3 linked regions of the Homo sapiens genome follow. The protein of the gene in region 2 binds, or shares a complex with, the protein of the main gene of each other region. Each region holds a gene or a part of one and is shown on either strand. Other genes may lie near its edges.

Region 1 (3,723 bases), on a different chromosome or scaffold from region 2:
TCCCCACTGTTACCTCTAGACCTTCCAACTTCCTTAAAGGAAGGTGTACCAAGAGAGAACATTCATCAGGGTTCCAAAAAGAGAAAAGCATAGAAAATTAGCCCTCTGTTCACCTTCAAAACAAATAAATTTTTGTTCTTGTTTTCCTGTTTTACTTTAGTATCAACTGCATTAAAACACACCGAGGCCAGGCATGGTGGTTCATGCTTTTAATCACAGCACTTCGGCAGTTGGGGAAATTACTTGTACCCAGGAGGAGTTCAAGACCAGCCTGGGCAAAACAGTGAGACCTTGTCTCTACAGAAAATTTTAAAAATGGCTGGGTATGGTGGCTCATGCCTATAATCTCGGCACTTTGGGAAGCCGAGGTGGGTGGATCACTTGAGTCTAGGAGTTTGAGACCAGCCTGGGCAATGTGGCGAAACCCTGTCTCTACCAAAAAAAAAAAAAAGGATCATGCCGCTGCACTCCAGCCTGGACAACAGATCAAGACTCTGTCTGAAGGAAAAAAAAAAAAAAAAAAGCCACCACACTGTCTGGGGACAGTGGATTCTTTTTTATAAAAGTTCAAGATAGGCAGGCATGGTGGTTCACACCCATAATCCCAGCACTTTGGGAGGCCGAGGCAGGCAGATCATTTGAGGCCAGGAGTTGGAGACCAGCCTGGCCAACATGGCAAAACCCCATCTCTACTAAAAATACAAAAATTAGCCAGGTGTGGTGGGACATGCTTGTAATCCCAGGTACTTGGGAGGCTGAAGCAGGAGAATCGCTTGAACCCGAGAGGTGGAGGTTGCAGTAAGCCGAGATTGCACCATTGCACTCCAGCCTGGGCGACAGAGTGAGACTCTGTCTCCAGAAAAAAGACCAATGGGCAGAGAGCAGTATGGTGGCAGGTAGCTCCCCGAAAGTCTGGTATAAAAGCAAAAACAGCCTATCTGTTCATGTTTTAGTGTTTTCTAGAATTCACAAACACCGGTATGAGCCAGTGGGGAATAGAAATAGAAAGAACAGATTTTTCATCTCATTTCCCTTTTTTACTGTTTAGTAACTCACACCTTTCTGCTCCAAACTATTTTTAACAAGATCCTCTCCCATGCCTTAAACATCTTTAGGTTTGTAAGTTCTGGCACAGGATAAATAGAAGCTGCACCTATGGCCCTCTCTCAGCCATAAAAAGGAGTACACACTTACTGAGGGTGTTCATGAGCTGGTTGCTTCCTTGTGGCCGGCTGGTTCCATTGGCAACGGCAGGCCTACTGTTGTAGGGCTGCTGGTGTGAAGGCTGCGGAGGAGAGGCTGGGCCATTGTCCTCGCCTCCACTGCTGGAGCTATCGTCATCACTTCCCGAAGAGCTCTCAGAGTCTGAAGAGCTGCTCCCACTGCTGCTGCTCATTTGTTCAATAATGTCAACTTCAGCCCTCAGCTCTGGAATAAAGGATATGACATGGATCAGCACAGCAGCCCTTTTCAAGGCAGTGCATTGGAGCTTCTATAAATAGTAAATCAGCAAAACCAACAGCAATAAGAAATAATTTAAAACAAAGTCCTACTTCTCAATACCTTAAAAAATGTACAAACAAAATTACCAAAACAAAAACACAGCCTGTTTCCAGAGACACAATGGAAACATTAAATTCACTCAAAATAAATAAAAAGCAAGACTGTTTCAGAATAATGGCTGTTCTGTGTAAGAAATGAATTAAGTCCATTTGCCTTTATCTACTAAAAGAAAAATTATGAATATTATGAACTATGGGATAAAACCATAATTCCCACATAAGAGAAGACAAATATTATGTAAAGTGGTTGAAAAATATTTGACTAGGAGTTGGGAGGTCTGAGTGCTTGTTTTGGATTTACCTCTAACCAGCAGTGACACCTAGGTAGAAGTCAATGAATTTTCCAAGCCACTCTGGAAAAATGAAAACCAGACAGCCTCTAAGGTCCTTTCCAGCTCTCATGTCCCATAAATAAATGGAGGTTTGCAGGAAGAACCATGGTGACTAAATAAAAATGGTAAAACAATATTCTTCCTCTTCACTCTTTACATATTTGACTGACAGCCATGCCTGTCAGGTACTGCATTTTTTACAGATATAAAATATCAATGTTAACTAACCATTTCAAGAAAGGCGCCAGATTTTCCTGTCTAGGCATACCATGTGGCCTTAAATGGCTATGGCTCCTTTAAGCATAATTGGCAACAACTAACCACTCATGCTCTGATTCCTATTCAACCTAAGTGAAAACTTCCATAACAGCATTCCAGTATCCATGAGGAAAAAAAAAAAGGGACAAAACAACTGTACACAGTGCAGAGTGATGTCTGCAGCCGTTCTACAGGGTGGAAAAGGCAAATTTCCCAGGGACAACTCTTTATGTTTCCCTACTATTATTATGGATTTAGTTATTTTATAAAACTTATAAATATGAAATATGACCTCACAACTTCTAAAGAGTCTGGAGGACTAAAACCATTCATCGTGTGAAGGAGAAAGCCAAGGTAAGCTTTTTTGTCTCAGGTTTGCAGTGGAGAGAACCAAACTGGACCTTTAACTCTTTCTAGGCCAGTATCTGTTTCTATTGGTCCTCATGGCCTCTTTCATATTTACACACTTTGTGTTAGCACAGGACATTTGCTTATGGTATTTTAAAAGGCATTTTAATCCTTTTTTTCCCCCCAAAAAAGAGATGTTATTGCCCAGGCTGGAGTTCAGTAGCTACCAACAGGCACGATCATAGCACACTGTAGCCTCAAACTCCCAACTTCAAGCGATCCTCCTGCCTCACAGTAGCTGAAACTACAAGTGTGCAGCACCATGGTCAGCTCCTCCAGCCTATATACTAATGTAGAGCTCAGAAAGGTTGCCACCTACGCTTAGTTTTCACCTCCAACACCTAGAATCCTTTCTTTCTCCGAAGCCTTAGAGGTGTGCCATATGGAGCTTAGATGGAAGTCATGCTTGTTTAAATCCTAGGCCTCTAAGCAGAATGGCTACAAAGATAGCCACAAACTCAAGTCACTATTCCAGGACTCACCCTTGTCAAATGAGGTAAGTGGCAGAAGCCCCCACCCTCCCCATCTCTGAACAGTGAGCTCTGCAGACATTTTTTTGATGGCATTGAATGCCCCAGCCACTGTATCAATACAGCAGCCATGTGATCTCCACAAGAAAATTCAGCACTCTACTCCAAGTTGCTATCATGGATCCAGAAAATGTTCTCTACCTCTTTTGATGTCATCCAACTGAGGTTCAGGTGAGGGGTTATCTTTCAAGGGAGAAGTTTTGGGTCCAACTGGAGGCTTCGTTGGAGCTCTGAATGGCATAGGTGGTGGAGGTGGTGGTGGCTGTGACGTCTGTGGAGGACGAGTGGGCTGCTGTTCCATTCGGGCCTGGATTTTACTGCTGCCCTCAGCTCTGAAAGGAGATACAGACATTAAATTAGCAGGGCAAAAATAGTGGTTCTCAAATTTGTCCAGGTGACTGAAAACTCAGAAGTCTCTGTAGAACCCCATGTTCTTTCCAGACCACTTCAAAATACTGATACTTGTAATTTTGTCATGTGAGCTATTCATTCAACATTTGAGTGTCTACTGTAATCCAGTACTATATTATGTATCAGGGATACAGACATGAATAGAATATTTACTGCCCTCGATGAGCTCAAATGTATAGCAAACAAATGTAGGATATAATGAAACTATGAAAATCCATTTTA
Region 2 (4,074 bases):
GAATAGCGTGAGTCAAGAGAATCCCCTCACTCAGACACCCAGGTTCGGGTCCCAACTTTGTCGCCGTGTGACCTTGGGCAAATGACCTCACCTCTGAGCCTCAACGTCTTCTTCTGCAAAATGGGTTAGTGATCCTGACTATGGGGCTGTTGATTCAGGATTCGGCGGGAACGCCCAGCACTTCCTGAGTACACAAGAGTGCTGAGAAAATGGTAGCTGTTTTTTGCGATTACTGACTCGGGGCCCGACCAGCTCTGGCACGACTCAGCGGAGGTGGGAGTCCTGCGGGTCCCATCCCTGCCTCCCGGAGAGCCAGACCCCAGCGATAGAAGGCCCGGGCGTTGCTTGCTCGTCGCCGCTAGTGCCGCCGCGCCCCCTGGCGGCCGTCGGTTGCCATGTCAACGGAGGGTGGCGGGGACCGGGGGAGGCGGAGGCGGGGGCCGTTCTCTCCTCCCAGGGCCGGAGGACGCTCCCTCCGCGCCTCCCGCCTTCGCCTCTGTGGGGGCACTCCGAGCCGGGGAGGAAGGGGCTTTCCGCTGCAGCCGACATGTGGGGGTAAACTGAGGCACGCGGCAGGGCGCCCGCAGCCAGGTGCCGAGCGCGGGGCCCCACCTCCGAAGGCGGAGGAGGGGCCGCGGGCGGTGACGCGCCGAGGGCGGCCGGCGGACAGCGAGCGGGCGGGCGGTGGCGGCGGCGGCAGGTGCGGCCGCGGAGGGTGGGAGGGAGGAGGGCGGGGGCGGGCGGAGGAGGAGGGGAGGGCGAGGCCGGGCACCTCCCCCTTTATAACGCGCCCCCTCCTGGGCTCTCGGGCCGTCTCCTAGTCGGCTCTTCCCGTCTCGCCCCCTCGCCCGGCCGCCCCGGGCCCGGGTCCGGCCAGGGAGCTCCCAGGCCGCGGCTCGGGGGCTGACCCCCCGCCCGCCGCCCCGCGCAGCCCGGCGGAGGCGGCGCCGTCGGAGGAGGAGGAGCAGGGCACTGCGGCTGGCCCCGGATCGGGCGCCAGAGCGGCAGCAGCTTCGGCAGCAGCGGCGGCCCGGGCCCATGCAGCGGGACGCGCCACCCCGAGCCCCAGCTCCGGCGCCCCGGCTCCCCGCGCCCCCGATCGGGGCCGCCGCTAGTAGTGGCGGCGGCGGAGGCGGGGGCAGCGGCGGCGGCGGCGGAGGCGCCTCTGCAGCTCCGGCTCCCCCTGGCCTCTCGGGAACTACAAGTCCCAGGGGGCCTGGCGGTGGGCGGCGGGCGGAAGAGGCGGGGTCGGCGCCGCGAGGCCGGAAGTGGCCGTGGAGGCGGAAGTGGCGCGGCCGCGGAGGGGCCTGGAGTGCGGCGGCGGCGGGACCCGGAGCAGGAGCGGCGGCAGCAGCGACTGGGGGCGGCGGCGGCGCGTTGGAGGCGGCCATGGCAAAGCAGTACGACTCGGTGGAGTGCCCTTTTTGTGATGAAGTTTCCAAATACGAGAAGCTCGCCAAGATCGGCCAAGGCACCTTCGGGTAAGGCTGGGCCCCTCGGGGCCGGGAGCCCTGGGCCTGCACCCCTAGGGCCGACGTCGGGATGCCCGGGCCCCCCCCGAGTTGGTAGAGAAGTCGTCTGTCCCCGGGCTTGCCTGCTGGTCTCTAGGCCGCGCCGCACCCCGCCCCGGCCTGACGGAGCCGGCTGGTGGGGAGGAGCCTGAGGCCCGTGGTGGGGGCGGGGAGGGGCTGCAGAGAGGCGCCCGTGAGGGGAGCGGGATCTCTCCAAGGGACGCCCAAGTGAGGAGAAGGGACTGAGGGAAGGAAGCAGAGGCTCCGAACGAGACAGGCTGCCGGGTGGCGGGGTAGCCGCGTGCCCTGGGTACCTAGCCCAGCCCCGCCCGGGAATCTCTTTGCTGCTGCCCCTCCTCCTGTAGTGGGGGAGGGGCGGGCCCTGCGGAAATGGCCTGATGAGTTCTCGGGTCTCCCTTTCCGCCTGCAGGGAGGTGTTCAAGGCCAGGCACCGCAAGACCGGCCAGAAGGTGGCTCTGAAGAAGGTGCTGATGGAAAACGAGAAGGAGGGGGTGAGTACGGATCGGGCGTGCGGGCCGGCCGGCTAACTGCCCGGGACCCCGGGTCGGTTTTCCACCCTGCTGCTTCTGGGAGTCTCAGGTTGAGATTTAATTTTTTTGTAGTAGTTCAGAAATTTCCAGGGAATGTGGCTTCCACCCTAAAACTAAATGTTTCATTCTTAGGCAGTTATGGGTGAGGCCAGGAGGGGGAGTTGATGCATGCATCGTGTGCACTTTATTTCACGAAGTTAGGAAGCCTTTAAACACCTTTTTTTAGTGTTAAATTTCGCTTAATGTAAAAGAAAGATTATATATGCATGCTTTTTGAAAGGTGTCTGATACTCAATTATTTAATGTATTTAAAAGGAGCGGTCCCTTCTCCACCCCATCTTAGCTCTAGTACAACTTCCCATAAACCTTCTTTTGCGTAATGTGCATTAGCAAGGACATTTTTAAATCATCATGTTTGTTGCCAACGAAACAGCCATAGAGCTGAAATTTGAAGACTGAAACCGCCGAGCGTTTAGTGGCTAATAGCAAAGTATTGCTGTTTCAGTTTGTTGTCTCAAACCATCATCTTGAAGTGTGCATGCTACTAATATCCATTTTATAGACAAGGCTTCTGAGACAGCTGGTTTCAGAGCCCATGATCTTGCTCTGTCTCCCAACTTGGCTGTCAGTACAGACCCCAGGGCTGGGCTCTGTACTGCGCTCACTCTTGACCACTTTCCCCTCTTTCTCACCCAGTTCCCCATTACAGCCTTGCGGGAGATCAAGATCCTTCAGCTTCTAAAACACGAGAATGTGGTCAACTTGATTGAGATTTGTCGAACCAAAGGTAAGTTATTTGGTTCTTACGAGAAGATGACACTTGTAGCCTAAGGTTTTGTTTGTAAACTTGGAACTAGGCACACCTAAACTGCCTCTTCTTAACTCAGATGGACCCATGGTGACTGCTTTTTCTGGTCCTCTTTCATCGTAGCTGGTGCTTCCTCGGGGCCTGCCCTGGCCCAGAAGAGGCACTCAGAAAATATTTGACCGGTGAAGGAAGGAACAGACAGATGCTCTGGAGGGCATGGGTGCCCGTGGGTTGGAGCAGGAAGAAAGAAGCTGGTTGTGGGAAAGTGTGTTGGGTGTGGTTTTCTTGACTTTTTCTTCTTTCTATTCCTGCCTCAGCTTCCCCCTATAACCGCTGCAAGGGTAGTATATACCTGGTGTTCGACTTCTGCGAGCATGACCTTGCTGGGCTGTTGAGCAATGTTTTGGTCAAGTTCACGCTGTCTGAGATCAAGAGGGTGATGCAGATGCTGCTTAACGGCCTCTACTACATCCACAGAAACAAGGTGGGGGCCAGAGCTGGGAGGAGGACCCAGGCTTGGGCTGGTCTTGGCTCCCACTCCCGGGTGGATGTCACTAAAGGACCCACTCTTGCCCTTCCTGCAGATCCTGCATAGGGACATGAAGGCTGCTAATGTGCTTATCACTCGTGATGGGGTCCTGAAGCTGGCAGACTTTGGGCTGGCCCGGGCCTTCAGCCTGGCCAAGAACAGCCAGCCCAACCGCTACACCAACCGTGTGGTGACACTCTGGTACCGGCCCCCGGAGCTGTTGCTCGGTGAGGACTCCCGAGCGGGCCAAGGGGGGTGAGGGCCAGGCATCTACCTGGCCCCTTCCCCCCAACTGCCAGGGCTTCTTGAGCTGCCGGCCCTGGGGCATTGAGCCTCAGGAGGCCCTCGGGCTCAAGGGGCCCTCCTGGTGCGCTCTTCTTCCCAGGGGAGCGGGACTACGGCCCCCCCATTGACCTGTGGGGTGCTGGGTGCATCATGGCAGAGATGTGGACCCGCAGCCCCATCATGCAGGGCAACACGGAGCAGCACCAACTCGCCCTCATCAGTCAGCTCTGCGGCTCCATCACCCCTGAGGTACGGGGCCCCGGTCCCCACGGGGTGCAGAGATCGAGGTCCCCCGGCAGAGGAGGAGTGGGGAGTAGAATGGAAGGAGCGCTCCTCTCTGGAAGGGAGGCTGGTTTGGTGACAGGGCCTGTCTTGGGGTGGGGAGTGTGT
Region 3 (3,723 bases), on a different chromosome or scaffold from region 2:
ACTAACCTCAACCAACAAAATTACAACCTTACCTCTAGCCCAATATCAACATCGCCCCCTACTTTCCAAAACGTATACACAGGTACAGAGACAAACCTCTGCTCCGTTCAAGTAGGTCTTACTCATTGGCCCTGAATAAATCAGATATCAAACTTGTCTTACATTCTCATCTCCTCTCTAATCAATTAAATCGGTATTGCACAAACTTTCTTCTGGTGTGAATCACAGCAGGGCATGGATGGTAGGGGTGAGGGGATATTAAAAAATAGAGTTTCCCAGGATCCTTCCCTGATTTAAGGTTGGATTCGGGAACTAATTTTTAACAAGCACCCAAGGTAATTCTTATGATCCTAACCTCCTCTTAAGGTACATCAAAAAGGCCTCCCTGAATTTTCCAATCTACCATTACTTCTCCTTTTTCTTAATTCCTAGAGCAATTTTTGTCTATACTATTTGCATGGCTTTTAGAGCAAACATCCTTATATTACAGGGTAAGTAATGTGTTACCTATTTCCAAAAAGGATTTGAGATGGGTATATTCTCCTATTGACTTTTTAAATGGAATAGTCTGTTTATCTGAATAAAATGCAGAAGTTTTGAGGTGTTTGCAGAGCAAACTTTCCTTTTTCTAGTACCTTACACATCCTAGGTACTCAATAAATTTTTACTAATGAAGATGAAATTATTTTAGAGAATGTATAATGGCTTCCTTCAATCCAGTTATACAGAAGTATCTACAATAGGATAAAAAGTGTACCTATACCTATAGAAAGCATTTAGAAGCAAAACAAGCTTTTATATATCACAGGGTAATGTGGTAAAACGCTTTTTGCTTAGGATCTCCACCAAATTTAAACTTAGAAAAAGATTAAAACATTTTTGTACCACACAGAAATAACTCCTATATTATAATGTGACTTAATAAATTTTTTATTGACATTTCCTTAGAAATTTATGTTTATAATATAATTTATTTCATTAAACCACATACCTTGTTTTTTTTACAGTGATGTTGCTGCTGAGTTTTTCTAGCCGACATTCTCCAGTATCATGGTTAATAATCAAAATGCATTCTTTTAAGTAAGGTTTTTTTGAACCTTTGAAAACAGTTACTGGTGGAGTTGAACCCTGTTTAAAAAGTTAATTATTATTACTTAAAATTTATCATAGGAATTCACTTGGGAAGGCCTTTGAAATCTTGATTCTGGGTTTCTCCTTCTATGTTATACTTCAAGTCACCCATAAACTACCTAAATTTACTACCCTGAATCCAAAGAGTGTAGTAAAAAAGACAGATGAAGATAGGCTGAAATCTCAAAGCTGCTGTCATTGAGGAAAGGGAAGACAGGAGGTACTCACCTTGGGACAGTAAAGATTTGTTTCTTTGGCCTATAATGAGTAATTGAGATTCAATTCGAACACAACCAATATATTTTATGGATAAGGAAACAGAGCCTTGAATCATATTTTCTATTCCTCCTTTTTTTTTTTTTTTTTTTGAGACAGAGTCTTGCTCTGTTGCCCGGGCTGGAGTGCAGTGGCACGATCTCGGCTCACTGCAACCTCCACCTCCTGGATTCAAGTGATTCTCCTGCCTCAGCCTCCAGAGCAGTTGGGACTATAGGCATGGACAACCACGCCCAGCTAATTTTTATATTTTTAGTAGAGACGGGGTTTCACCATGTTGGTCAGGCTGGTCTCGAACTCCTGACCTCAAGTGATCCACCCATCTCAGTCTCCCAAAGTGCTGTGATTACAGGCAGAAGCCACTGTGCCCAGCCTCCTCATCTTCTTTCTTATTGCTTTATAAGTTTAATTTTTAAAATCTGGCATTTTCTTAAAGCAGTACCTCCCTATGCATATTAAGGAACACCTCTTACACTAAACCCACTAATTAAATTTAGCATAATTAAAAGTAAGATAAGCAGACATTATGTGCTTAATGATGTCATATGAAAGTACACTGCGCCATCCATAAAATACTCTTGCCAAAAACCACACAAAAACCCCAAAGAATTTAATTCTTATCAAACCCCAAAGAATCTGTAATCCAGCCTGCCCTTAGATATATAACTACCAATATATAGAAAATAGAAGGAATAGAGGAACAAGTTAAATACATCCAGATAGAAGTAATTTGAAGTCCAGAATGTAGGTATATTCTCTAGGACAGATAGTACGGTTTTTCCAACAAACCAATGGCATAAAAAAGAGAAGAGAGCCAGGTGCAGGCACTGTAGTACCAGCTACTTGTGGAGGATGGGTGCTGAAGCAGGAGGACAGCTTGAAGCCAGGAGTTCTAGGCTTCAGTGTGACATAATCACACCCGTGAATAGCCACTGCACTCCAACCTGGGCAACACAGTGAGACCCTGTCTCTAAAAAAGATAAATTAAAAAAGGGGTGGAGAAGAAAGGAAGGGACTTTTAAAGAATAAAAGAGACAAGAAATACAATATTCAAATACAATGTAGAAATCTTATTTGGATTCTAGTTAGGACATTTTACAGACAAATGTCTGTAAAAAACACGTTTTTGAGATCATCACAAAATTGTGACTATGGACGAAGTATTATCAATTATGTTATTTGTGATAATAGCATGGTGCTTAGATAGAAATGTCCTTATCAGTTAGAGATACATAAGTAAGCATTGATGAAATGGCACATTGTCTGGGATTTGCTATAAAATATGCCAAGGAAAAAAATGGTAAGACATTAGATTAAAAAATAAAAAGATTAGCAAAATGTTGATAATTGTTAAAGCTCAGTGATGGGTACATGTAATTCATTATACAATTCTGTTGGCAATAAAAGAAACCTAGATCATTACTAATAAACTACATCTACTTACATGCTCCTCCCCTATCTTTTGTCCCTGCTCCATCAAACCTGAAGGAATTTTACGTTTGTCATTCTTTTGCTTTATCCCACATATATGTATTTCTAAACAATTATTTGTGTATGTTTGTCTTTGGAGTTTATAAAAGTACATTAAATTTTAATGGATTTATCATAATAATTTTATCAAATATTACAAAAATAATAAAATAGTACTGTTAGATCAGGTTAGAAAAGGATGACCTCTAAAAAGGCTAAGTGGTGTATCATATTAAAGTTAATCATTAGAGATTTACTAAATGAGCACTAGGAGGAGTATAAGATAAATTAGGTAATTGAAAATGCCATAAAAGATGGGTAGGTTAGAGATTTCTGAAGGTATGGAGGGAAAATTATAAATGTAAAATAAAGGAACAGTTGTTTGTGGGTTTTTTACCTCTCCCAAAGACTAAAGTAATCTACAGAAAATCAAGAATGCACAACACGTAGATGAAGACATGTCTGGGCTAGCTCTAAAACGGTTAGATGTGGAGCACTTAGTTGAAGCCCTGGTAAGCTGGAGAGTCAGGAGCATGATTATAACCAAACAAAGTGGGTCTACTTGGCTGGTAAGTAAATTTTTCAGATGTGTTGACTGAAACAAGTAAGATACCCCAAAATAGTTACCTAAGGACTCCAAATTACAGTTGATAAGAGATTTGTGCAAGATATTCTTAATGATATCTGTACTCTTAATTAGAATGGAATACATCTAAAAATTACAATGTATTATTGTTCTCTGAGCTCCTGAAAATAAGAACTAATCATTAATTTTTAAAAAATTGCTCTCAGCACCTGAAGAAGTATCAAGACCTTTATAAATATTCAATGAAGGTTAAATATGAA

The links.
Region 1: CDK9 (region 2) and EAF1 share a complex: the UniProt entries of both Homo sapiens proteins name them as parts of the super elongation complex.
Region 3: CDK9 (region 2) and EAF2 share a complex: the UniProt entries of both Homo sapiens proteins name them as parts of the super elongation complex.

Annotation. Positions count from the first base shown.
Region 1 is NC_000003.12:15,434,047-15,437,769, reverse strand, and holds part of EAF1 (ELL-associated factor 1), read right to left. Parts: intron 3,423-3,723; coding exon 3,232-3,422; intron 1,429-3,231; coding exon 1,195-1,428; intron 1-1,194. UniProt on the Homo sapiens protein: Acts as a transcriptional transactivator of ELL and ELL2 elongation activities.
Region 2 is NC_000009.12:127,784,760-127,788,833, forward strand, and holds the start of CDK9 (cyclin-dependent kinase 9), read left to right. Parts: upstream 1-1,274; 5' UTR 1,275-1,389; coding exon 1,390-1,481; intron 1,482-1,941; coding exon 1,942-2,023; intron 2,024-2,758; coding exon 2,759-2,849; intron 2,850-3,187; coding exon 3,188-3,354; intron 3,355-3,454; coding exon 3,455-3,626; intron 3,627-3,784; coding exon 3,785-3,933; intron 3,934-4,074. UniProt on the Homo sapiens protein: Protein kinase involved in the regulation of transcription.
Region 3 is NC_000003.12:121,852,092-121,855,814, reverse strand, and holds part of EAF2 (ELL-associated factor 2), read right to left. Parts: intron 1,129-3,723; coding exon 992-1,128; intron 1-991. UniProt on the Homo sapiens protein: Acts as a transcriptional transactivator of TCEA1 elongation activity. Acts as a transcriptional transactivator of ELL and ELL2 elongation activities. Potent inducer of apoptosis in prostatic and non-prostatic cell lines.